Regions from separate parts of the Homo sapiens genome. Here regions 1 and 3 are each reported to be linked to region 2. The links are microRNA targets in miRTarBase. Many come from high-throughput screens and were not tested one by one. Region 2 holds a microRNA gene; each other region holds the end of a gene's coding sequence.
The links. Region 2 holds the annotated microRNA hsa-miR-5692c (AAUAAUAUCACAGUAGGUGUAC, at 1,175-1,196, shown strand). A microRNA usually pairs through its seed, bases 2 to 8, with sites in the 3' UTR of a target mRNA and lowers its output. Matches are read on the target gene's strand: a 7mer-m8 pairs with bases 2 to 8, a 7mer-A1 pairs with bases 2 to 7 and ends in A, and an 8mer does both.

Region 1 (4,000 bases), not on the chromosome of region 2:
ACCAGAATTACCAGAAATATATCTAACCTATTTATTATATTCACTTCTAGTTGGAGTTTGAGCAAGTAAATATGCATTGTAATACAAACATTTCCTTTTAAAACTCTTCAACAGGACTCTGACTTGAAGAAAACAGTGGATGAAAGTGCACGGATTCAGAGAGCATACAACCACTATTTTGATTTGATCATCATAAATGATAATCTAGACAAAGCCTTTGAAAAACTGCAAACTGCCATAGAGAAACTGAGAATGGAACCACAGTGGGTCCCAATCAGCTGGGTTTACTGATGATTCAGTAAGGTTAACAATGAAAATTAAACTCTTAAAAAGTGACTGCAACAAATAAACCTTCTACTGAGAAAATACATCACAGATAGAAGATTATCTGCTAAGTCCAGGCATTTTTATGGTGTAGATTGAAATAATAGTACACTTCTGAATTTTTATATAAAATGTGGTTGGAAGGTGTACTAATATATAATTTATCTTAATTTTTCTAACTTTGTATGGATAATCTTTCTATTCATATCACATAAAGAAATGCGTTGAAGCATTTTGTATATGTTTTGATTTAGTACCCTTGCCTTTTTCATCAAAGGAATTTTCAAATCATTCACTCTAACATTGGTCTCATATTTTCACTGTGATAATGAATATTACTTGAAATAGTTTTGTAAAGCTGTCATTTAGTTCAGTATTCAAATAGTGAAGGGTTAGTCTTAATAGAAGAAAATATAGTTATTGACCTTCCTTCTTATAAATTTCTTACAAAAGCAGAATTTTAAGTCAGTGTTATAGCTAGTCTACTACCATCTAAATCTGACATCAAAAGTCTGATCAGTTTACGTATTTTCATTATTTCGGAGATGTATGGCTATCCATTCTAATTTATACAGCTATATTAGTTTTGTCTCTTCATTTCTATCTTTACTGAAAAATTGAAGAGCAATACCTTGCACTCTCTTTTGAGGTTATTCTTTTTATTTGTTGCAGTGATATGATGCTAACTAATTTAACATGTACACAGTAAGCTCTGGGGCTGGAAGCAAGGTCATGCAGACTGAGAGAGTGCCTTATCCTGTAAAACCTTACAGCAAAATGACACTTGAAGAAAGTTTATTTTCACATGTAAAATTTTGACTGACAAAAGGAACCTACTACTTTAAACAATGGTTTTATTAGAACATGGTCAGCAAATGTATCATGCCTCTGCAAATTTTAGTGATGTTTAGAGATGCCTCTAAGTTTGCAGTTGGAGGTTTTTGTGCTTTTAGAAATGTGATGTGATCCTTAGGGTACCTGTTTTGTCTGTTGTGTTGAGAACCAAACCCATTGAACAACTTAAAAAATTGGGAAATAATTGTCAGCTATTTTGTATACATACACACAAAATATATACATTATATAATATGTATATTATGTATTATATAATATATATAAAATGTTTTGTATATTTTTTACATATCTGTTAAAAAATGTACTTTGTTTTTTTGTTTGTTTGTTTTGAGATGGAGTCTCTCTCTGTCACCCATGCTGGAGTACAGTGGCGCGATCTCAGCCCGCTGCAACCTCTGCCTCCTGGGTTCATGCGACTCTCGTGCCTCAGCCTCCCAAGTAATTGAGATTACAGTTGGGTGCCACCATGTCCGGCTAATTTTTGTATTTTTAGTACAGATGGGGTTTCACCATGTTGGCCAGGGTGGTCTCGAGCTCCTGACCTCAAGTGATCCACCCACCTTGGCCTCCCAAAGTGCTGAGATTACAAGCATGAGCCACTGCACCTAGCCAAGAAGTGTACTTTTTGTTTAATGATTACCGAAAGAAGTTCTCCTTTAGAAGCATTGACTTATACAAATTCCCACATTCACCTCAGTTAATATCTTCCTTTAGGATTCTTGGATAATAGAAATTCTTCCTAAAACATACTCAGAGATGCAGCTCATTATTAAATTAAGGTAACCACATTCTGTATTGTTGCTAGCTTTTCATGTAAACATTATTCACACTTTAAAGGATTAGGTGTTTAAATATTGATGGTCATCTTTGTCTGGTGTTAGGTGCCAGACACCTGGCTGCTGAATTTGTTTTTTCCCTCACCAAAGTTGTCATTTGGAACGCCAGCTGGGAGGACTTTGAAGGAAAAGAAAATATATGACAATAGGCAGTATTGACACATTGTTTAAAATCTTTTTCACAATAAAACAAAACACCCAAGTTGTCATATTGTTAAAGTTGGAAATCTATAGGTTTTTCTTTTTTTTTTTTTTTTTCTTTTTTTGATTCTAGATTTCATGGCCAGAACACAAATTCACGTTTCTTGTCCTAGGACAGGGAATTGGTGACAAAATGGATTATACTATTTTAATAACAGTGGAAACTTTCAAACTACATGTGTTTACACCAAATTCTTGGCTTCTCAAAGCAACATGAATTAAAGCACAGTATCAAGGTGATGCCCTATGACAATGTTTCAACACACACTTGAAATTTTAAGAGAAATTTCAGTTCTTCACTCAGGAAATGTGCTGTATTCTCTAATGTACTTTCATGCTGCAGCATGGAGCCTCTTTAAACAGCTTTGGGATAATTATAGCAGCACAAGAAGTTTATCTGCAAAATATTTCAATCATCTTGGTACAATAGATGACTTTTACATCATGTATATTAGCCTTATGTGATATAAAATGTATTACTTAGAAAATATACTTAAAGGAATTATTTCTATTATAAATGGTATTCATGATTGACTACTTAATTAATGCACATTAGATTTCTCCTAATATAAAATGAAATGATGCAGTTTAGTTCATTTCAGTCTAGATGCCCGTACTAACAAGAATACAGTTAGATAAGTTCATTGTATCTCAATGAAGAATCATTGAACTTGAAACCCAAGTCCCAAATGAATCTGCAGGAATGAGCAGTGCTCTGCGGGGGCAAACAGCCCCAGAGGTCCCAGGGTTCTTCCTAGGTAATGAGAGTATAGCTGTGATCAAGGAAATGTGAACTTCTCTTTTGGGAAGATCTGCGATAATTAGCTTTATGGAAGCGAAAATGGTTTAGAGTGGTGTTGAGCAATTGTTAAGAGTTGAAATAGACACACACATGCATGTGCTTTTGGGAAACATGATGTGCCAACGTATTAATGTGCCTGAGGGCTCCTTGTGGATAGGTCAGTGTCCACATTTCAGCACTCAGGGCATGACTGTACACAACCTAAGACTATATATATATTTTTTCATTTTCAAATGTACAAATACCCATAGAGGTGATGTGCCTGGATAAGTCATTTAACCATAGCTTAGTGAAATAAATGTGATGGCCCTAAAAAGTAGAATTTTCACTTTCATTACAGCCATGCCTTTATTATGCAGTCTCCATTTCTGTGTGATATTTGGTAATATCACATGTCAAATACATCAGGACTTTGTTTATTTTGGCTAACTCTAACTATACAATTGCTGAACATAGCTTTCTGAAATAGAAATTATAAGAGAAACCCAGTATGCCTACAGCATTAGTAGCCTAAATCCTAGATTCTAGAATCCAATAAATTTATAGTAGTTCTTAAGAAGTTTCCTTTAAAGCAACAAATAGATTATTAAGGCAAATTTAGATAATAACCCAAGTTAGCAATAAAACCATGTGACATTATAGATTATGTCCAGATACTAACTGCTTTGACCATAATATCCCAATGACAATAAAAAATGATCCTTGGTTTAAAAATTATTAAATGGTACTTATTTTTATGTATAACAAGTGTCATGATCCCAGTGACTGGAGTTGATTTTCAAGGTGGATAGCCATAGAGTTAGGTAAAATTATTTTGAATTGGCAAACTAAAGATAACAATTTTGAAAATTGCTCAAAATAATAATCTACTTAAATTTTACTTTTGTAACTTCTGAAACAGTACTCCATTATCCAGAAATCACAGGCTAGAGAGCCAATAATTTTGTAGTAATGAACCTTAACTAAACATGAAAAAGGCAAT
Region 2 (4,155 bases):
TACTTCTATGTCACAGAAGGTGTACCCTGTCTGTGGACACCTTCTGTGACATCATTCATAATATCATAGGGAGATAGTACTCTTAATGTCAAAGGGGGTGTACATCATGTGTGGAGATCATGTGACATTATTTGTAATATTTTAGGGAGATATGATTCCTAATATCACAGAAAATGTACAGCATGTGTAGACATCCTGTGACATCTTCCTAAGAGTAGTATCTTCCTAGAATATTAAGAACACAGTGGGTGTACACACAGCGTGTGCACTCACTGTGAGGTTATTCATAATATCCTATGAAGATAATACTCCTAATATCACAGAGGGTGTAGACAGTGAGTGTACAAGGTATACACAAGATGTGCACTCACTGTTATATGAGGAGTAATATCTCCTTAGAATATTACATATAATATCGGAGTGGGTATACACACAGGGCGATATCCTATTACAGTGCCTGTACACCCTTTGATATGATTCATAATATCCTAGGGAGATATTACACTTAATATCACAACACTTTGATATTAGGTGTAATATCTCCCTAGGATATTACAAATAATATCACAGGGTGTACACCCACTGTAATATTAGGAGTAATATCTCCCTAGAATATTACAAATAATATCACAGGGTGTACACTGACTGTGATATTAAAAAATATTATCACTAAAATATTATGAATATTATCACAGGGTGCACACCAACTATGATATTAGGAGTAATATCTCCTTAGAATATTAAAAATAATATCACAGGGTGTACACCCACAGTGATATTAGGAGTAATATATCCCTAGAATATTATGAATAGTATCACAGAGTGTACACCTACTGTGATATTAGGATTAATATATCCCTGGAATATTATGAATAATATCACAGATTGTACTCACAAGGTGTACACCCACTGTGATATTAGGAATAATATCTGCCAAGAATATTATAAATAACATCTGCCAAGTATATTATAAATAACATCATACAGAGTGCACCCACTGTGATATTACACGTAATATCTCCCTAGAATATTATGAATAACATCAATGGATGTACACACAAGGTGTACACCCACTGTGATATTAAGAGTAATACCTCCATAGGATATTACTAATTATATAACATTGTATATACCCACTGTGATATTAAGAGTAATAGCTCTCTAGGTTATTATGAATAATATCACAGTAGGTGTACACAATGTTGTACCCTACTGTGATATTAGAAGTAATATCTTTCTAGGATATTATGAATATCACAAGGTGCACACTCACTGTGATATTAGGAGTAATATCTCCCTAGAATATTACAAATAATATCACAGGGTGTACAAACATGGTGTACCCCTACTGTGATACTAGGAGTAATATTTCCCTAGGATATTACAAATAATATCACAGGGTGTACTTACATTGTGTACCTTCCCTGTGATACTAGGATTAATATCTCCCTGGGATATTATAAATAATTTCACTGAATGTACACAGATTCTGTATTCTCACTGTGATACTAGGAGTAGTATCTCTCTAGGATATTATGAATAATATCACAGGGTGAACACACATGGTGTACCCCTACTGTGATATTCACAATATCTCCCTAGGATATTGTGAATAATATCACAGGGTGTACACACATGGTGTACCCCCCACTGTCATACTAAGAGTGATATCTTCCAAGGATACTAGAAATAATGTCAAAAAGTGTACATATATGGTGTACACCCACTGTGATAGTAGGAGTAATACCTCCCTAGGATATTATAAATAATATCACAAGGTATATGCACATGGTGTACATTCACAGTGTTAATAGGAGTAATATTTTTCCAGGATATTACAAATAATATCATAGGGTCTACACACATGGTGTATACCCACTGTGATAGTAGGAGTAATATCTTCCTAGGATATTACAGATAATATCACAGGGTATACATGCATGGTGTACACCCATTGTGATACTAGGAGAAATATCTCCCTATGATATAATGAATAGTATAACAGGGTGTAGTCATATGATGTAAACCCACTGTGATATTAGGAGTAATATCTCCGTAGGATATGAGGGTATTGGGAGTAATATCTTCTCTTCCCCTGGATATTATGAACAGGGGAGTGTACAACCCTTGCAATGTAACAGGGGTTTGTACATTCCCTGCAATACTGGGTGTAATAGCATCTTATCTCCTTCTGGATATTATGAACAATATAACATTGGGGTGTACACCCACTGCAATATTGGGAGTAATATCATCCCCTCTTTCCCTAAATATTATGAAAAGTATCAGAGAGGGTGTACACTTCTTGCAATATTGCGAGTAATATCATCCCCGCCCCCCGGATAATACGAACAATATGATAGAGGAATGTACACCCTCTGCAGTATTGGGACTAATATTATTCCCTTTCTCCCTGCATATTACGTACAATATCACTGCGGGGTGCACACACCCTGTGATATTGGATGTAATATCATCCCCTCTCCTTCTAATATTACAAACCTTATTATAGGGAGTGTATTCCCACTGTGATATTGAGGGTAATATCATCTCCTCCCCTCCTGGATATTATGAAAAATGTAACAGAGGGTGTACACCTTCTGCGATATTGGAGGTAATATCATCCCTTTGTCTAATAAGAAGAAGTAATATCATCTTCTTCCCCCACTGAATATTATTAACAACATCACAGGGGGTTTACACACCCTGTGATATTGGGAGTAATATCATCCTCTCGCCCCCTAGATATTACCAACAATATCACAAGCAGACGTACACCTCCTATGAACAATATCACAGGAAGGAGTACACCCCCTACGATATTGAGAGTGATATCATCCCCTTTTTTTTCTAGATATTTTGAAGAATATCACAGGGGAGTATACACCCCCTGCGATATTGGAAGTAATATCATTCCCTACCCTTCCGGATATTACAAACAATATCACAGGGGGTGTACACCCCTTGTGATATTGGGAGTAATATCATCCCCTACCACCCTGGATATTACAAACAATATCACAGAGGGTATACACCTTCTGTGATATTGGGAGTAATATCATCATCTTCCTTCCCTGGATATTACAAACAACATCACAGGGGGGTTTACAACCCCTGAGATATTGGGAGTAATATCGTCCTCTTCCCGCCTAGATATTATGAAAAATATCACAGAAGGGTGTACACACCCTGCGATATTGGGAGTTGTACAACCCCAAAGATATGGGGAGTGTTATAACCCTCTCCTCCCCTGAGTGTTATGAACCATATCACAGAGGGGTGTACACGCCCCTGCGATATGGGGAGTGATATCATCCTCTCCCCCTCTGGATGTTACGAACCATATCACAGGCGAGTGTACACTCCCCAGCGATATGGGGTGTATTATCATCCACTCCCCACCGGATCTTACAAACCATTTCACAGCAGAGTGTACACACCCCGTGATATCAGGAGTAGTATCACCCTCTCCCCTCCTAAATATTACAAACCCTATCCCAGGGGGGTGTACACTCAAGGTGTTTACGATATTGGAAGTAATATATTCTCCCCTCTGGATATTAGAAACAACATCACCCGGGAGGGTGGGTGTACAGCCACTGCGATATTGGGCATAACTTCATCCTCCCTCTTCCTCTGGATATAGGAATTATACTACAGGCGGGGTGTACACCCCCTGCGATGTTGAAACTCATGTCATCCTCTCTTCCCCTGCATATTAGGAACAATATCACAAGGGGGTGTGGACATTTTCTGTGATATTGAAAGTAATATCATCTGCTTAGCTTCTGGATATTAGGAACAATATTACAGAAATGGTGAACACCCCCTTCGATATTGGGAATAATATTATCTTCTGCTCCCTAAATATTAAGAACAATACCACAAGCGGGCTGTACACCCTTTGCTATATTTGGACTAACATCAAACTCTCCTTTTCTGGATATTAGGAAGAATATCACTGGGCGGGGTGTACTCTCCCAGTGATATTGATAGTAATAGAGTTCTATCCCCCACTGGACATTAAAAGCAATATCACAGGCGGGTTGTACAGCCCCTGGGATATTGGGAGTAATATAATCGTTTTTCCACCTGGGTATTAGAAACAATATCACCAGGGGGGTGTACAGTTCCTGCAATATTGGGAGTAATATC
Region 3 (4,000 bases), not on the chromosome of region 2:
GCTCAAAATCTTAAAATCTAGGGCATGGCCAACTAAATTACTTTGATTCTGTTTACCTTCTCTGATGACAATTCCATCAAGCCTTAAATAGGAAAATGTCGAATCTAGGGTAATTTATCACTTTTGTGTGCATCTTATCTGAGTCCAGCCATCTGGTACTGCTGTGCATTTTGAACACCGTGGGCATAAACAATTTGTTGAATTACTAAGTGAAAACAATAATAAAGAAGAAAATGGTCAGGAGTGTGGTTTCAGCACTACTAACAGATGACTGTTTCTACCTCATTTGACCATAACTGTACTTGTGAGCTTCTTTCCTTCCATTCATGACTGAAGATCTGCTCAAATGCACCAACACTGCCAAGTGACTAAGGTAGAAAAGAAAAATGACAGGTATCGTCATCTGAAGGACAGATGAATCTTTTTCTGCCCCTTCTTCACAATGGAATATAAGGAACAATTATGGGATGTCATCAGAATGGATGCCATAGGACCTACAGCTCCCTTTCTCTTTATTGTGATTATACTTTAAATATGACATTGTCTTTTATGTGTATGTTCCTATATTTTCAATGTATCTTTTTCCTTCAGTAAACCTGATATTCAAATAAAATGGTAAATGTGTGCTTTTTTAAATATTTAAAGTACATTAAGGGGCTGGAACTTTAGTAAAGCAAAACATTGAATTCCCCATCCGCCCTAAGTGATTCAACTGCTGTTATCTATAGTACTGGCTAATATTTATAAATACCAAAGGAAAGTCTCTTATAATTGCCATGCTTTAAATTCTGAACTTAAATTCTGCCTATGACAATTAAAATACCAGTCAACAGGAAAGAACTTACATATTAGTTCTTTGCCCAAAACCTATTTTTTTGTTTTAGTAATACATAAAGACAGAGAAAATCGTGACTGTACTGATTTTCTTGACTTTGAGACGGGTGAGTCCAGGTAAAAGTAGGCCACTAGTCAATATGGTTTCATGTTAGTATTTACTAAAGTTTTAAATATAATCACGTAGAAAACAAACATTTCAAAAATGCAAAATATTAGAAATCTAATCAGTGCTATTAATCTTTCCATGCAAACAATCTCTTTTGCTGAGATAAGTGATACTAGTTCTGCAGCTGGGAATATGTACAAAATGATGCTGTACCAGAGTTTAAAAATAGGGTTGGTCTAGAGATTGCACATGATACAAATGAAGCAGCGCAAATAATATATGACTAAATACAGGATTTCAATCAAGCTTATCATCCTGGGAATATACAGCTATAATACCATGAATAGACAAGATATAAAGCTCTTTCACAGTTACCCACCCCTCACCACTAGGAAAGAAACATTTCTTAATACAAAGAGTGGTTTATCTGGCTATCCAGGGCTATGCTGTCCATCTTTGGTTATAGGGACTCCCTCTGCTTATCCTTTGGTTTACTCTTAAATAGCACCTATTCTGCCAATAGGAAGAGTAAACATAAATTTGAAGACCACAACTTGGCAAAAGCTTCCCCTTAATATACAGTGAATACTTAATTCTCAATAACTCAGAGTTTATATACCTTTAAAAAAATAAAGTATTCCATATATCTGAAACTTAGTGGCATACTTAGCACTAGACTATAAGCAGATGACAAAGAAAGGCCAGGCCTGACCTATACCCCAACCTTACCTCTACAATCTCCATGGTGACAGTAATTACCCTTCATTTTCCTTTTCTTTCCAGAAAGGGATAAAGACCACTGCTGTCTAAGGAATGGCTTCAGTAAATATTAAATGTCAGTGGCTTTGAATACCATAACATTTATAAAAAAATTTATAAACAATAAACCACAGCTCGCCTGCCTTTGCCACTCTATAAACAGAGGCCTGTGGAATCTGAGAGCAAGTATAAAGGATTATCATAAAGAGAACTACAAAGACAATGACAAACTGACCAATGAAGAAGAAAAATCTACAGCAAAGTAGTGAAAAGATGCCTTGACAAAATTAGTGTGCAGTCACTTGTGTTCTTAGAAGTAAACCTCACTTCATATGTTCCAGACTCAGCTGACACTGACTCTGGAATAGCTGTTTCTTGGACCCTACAGACATAAGTTTTTCTTTCAGAACAAGTTAAACATTTCCCCCTAGCCAAACCTACCTGCTCAACCAATGCTGCCCGTGCCAAGAGCCTTTTAAATATGCTTTGTGGATTATGGATACCTAAGAAGGAAAGAGGATACACAATACTACCTTAGCTCAAGTAGAAATGGCAGGTGACAAATTCTGTTTCACCATAAAGGCACCACTAAAAGGTTTTATTTAGAACCTCAGCAGCCTGTAGAGGCTACACAATTTCAGGTTCATCAGCTTTTACAACTATTTTCAACGTAAGAATAGAAGCTATTAGCAAATAACTTCTATCAAATATAAAAGGGAGGCCTAGGATATACAACATCTTTGCTTTATAAAGATGCACCTAACATGAACTAACTTGTCAACTTTAGACTCTTACAGCAGCTCAAACAGTTGCAAAAACAATGAACATCAGTGATTTCTGGCAATAAGTCTGTCAGTTCTAAGAGAGTAAACAACACTTTTTTAAAGCTACATTCTAGTCTTTCTTCATACACTACACATAAGAAAGAAATGCAGGTTCAAAAATAAATCACCCAAAAGTCTTTTCCATGTCCACTGAGACTTAGCCTTCAGTTCAACACAAACAAGAGATAAGTGTACTCCAAAATGCCTTCTGAATCTCAAGAATCTGTTTCCAAACTAGAACATTTTCTAAAGATAAGCAATAAGTTCCTTAAAAACATGTCTACCCCACCCAAAACAAATCAAACCCAAAATAGGCTTTACACCCTGTCAAGTACTAATCAATAAAGTGTGGCAACTATAAACTATCATCAAAGAATTAAAGACACAAACCACCCCCAGCTATGCAGAAAAAAATGGCAAGTGTTTATATGAAGCCAGTGGTTAAAAGTAATAGGGCCTTTTGCTTTTCCATTCATTTCCAAAGAGGAAGATTATCTTCCAAAGACCCCAGTGGTGAGTAAGTGGCAGGCAACATGCAGGAAATGACGCAGCTGAGGAGAGGAAAATTGCAGCAACAAACAGGTGGATTTTCTGGGGAAGGATCCCTCAATGTCCGTCTAGGGAAGAAAGTGGGAGAAGAGCTGCAGTCACAACTGGAAGGCAACCACAGAGAATGCCAGAGTCGAATACACAGACTTTGTAATTTCACATCTAAAAGGCTGAGTAATTTAAATCTCAGGATGGGTGGTTGGTAATTAAAATCATAACTGTTGCCACAGTAACTCTTAGATAACAGAACCATTAAAACTCTGAGTTTAGATCCTAAAAAATGACAGGTGTCATTGGACAAAATCTCTAGCAAAACAGACATACACTAATCTTCCTCTAAATGGGCTACTGTGTTTTTTTCCCCATGAATTTCTACCAGTCCCTCTAAAAATGAATAGCAGCCTAGATCTTGGTGACAGGCAACAGCTAGTATATTTAAAAAGAGCTTGAGGCTCCATAGTTCATTATAACATGTTAATATGTAAGAATTACACTATATATATGACATTTTAAAACTTACATTAAGCAGCCATAGATGGGTCATTTTTACTGTAAAGGCTGATCAAGGAAGATACCCTGGGTTTGGTAGATCTCTTTGAGGACGAGCAATACTGTATCTTCAGACTCCCTATAAAGAGAAAAAATTATGTTGAGAAAAGGAACTAACACTTGTGCCAAATGTTTTACATATATTATCTCATTTAATCCATACAACCATCTTGCAAGTTTATTTTTTACTTCTGCAAAGAAATGAGATTCAGAAGTAATGTAATTGGCAGTGGTTTGGAAGGTGACCTGGCAAAGAACTCTGGCATTAAGTCTAGTAATATAAAAAAGCTAGGAAGAGAGGCCAGGTGCGGTGGCTCATGCCTGTAATCCTAACACTCTGGGAGGCTGAGGTGGACAAGTCACTACAGGTCTGGAA

Region 1: miRTarBase lists PALS2 as a target of hsa-miR-5692c. Seed matches in the 3' UTR shown: 7mer-m8 at 1,417-1,423, 7mer-A1 at 1,425-1,431 and 7mer-A1 at 2,726-2,732.
Region 3: the mRNA of DDHD2 is a reported target of hsa-miR-5692c. Seed matches in the 3' UTR shown: 7mer-A1 at 1,274-1,280 and 7mer-m8 at 1,216-1,222.

What each region holds. Positions count from the first base shown.
Region 1 is chr7:24,687,324-24,691,323 of GRCh38, forward strand. It overlaps PALS2 (protein associated with LIN7 2, MAGUK p55 family member), which reads left to right. Exons shown (of 12, transcript NM_001303037.2): 12 at 115-4,000. The coding sequence ends at 291. Among named protein-coding and RNA genes, the nearest start is that of GSDME, 68 kb to the right of the region's middle.
Region 2 is chr5:135,800,037-135,804,191 of GRCh38, reverse strand. It overlaps MIR5692C1 (microRNA 5692c-1), which reads left to right and starts at 1,117; the gene lies at 1,117-1,207. It also overlaps a transcript of SLC25A48 not described here.
Region 3 is chr8:38,259,743-38,263,742 of GRCh38, reverse strand. DDHD2 (DDHD domain containing 2) reads right to left here. Exons shown (of 18, transcript NM_015214.3): 17 at 3,596-3,703; 18 at 907-3,143. The coding sequence ends at 3,622. It overlaps PLPP5 (phospholipid phosphatase 5), which reads left to right. Exons shown (of 7, transcript NM_001102559.2): 7 at 1-613. Among named protein-coding and RNA genes, the nearest start is that of PLPP5, 7.5 kb to the left of the region's middle.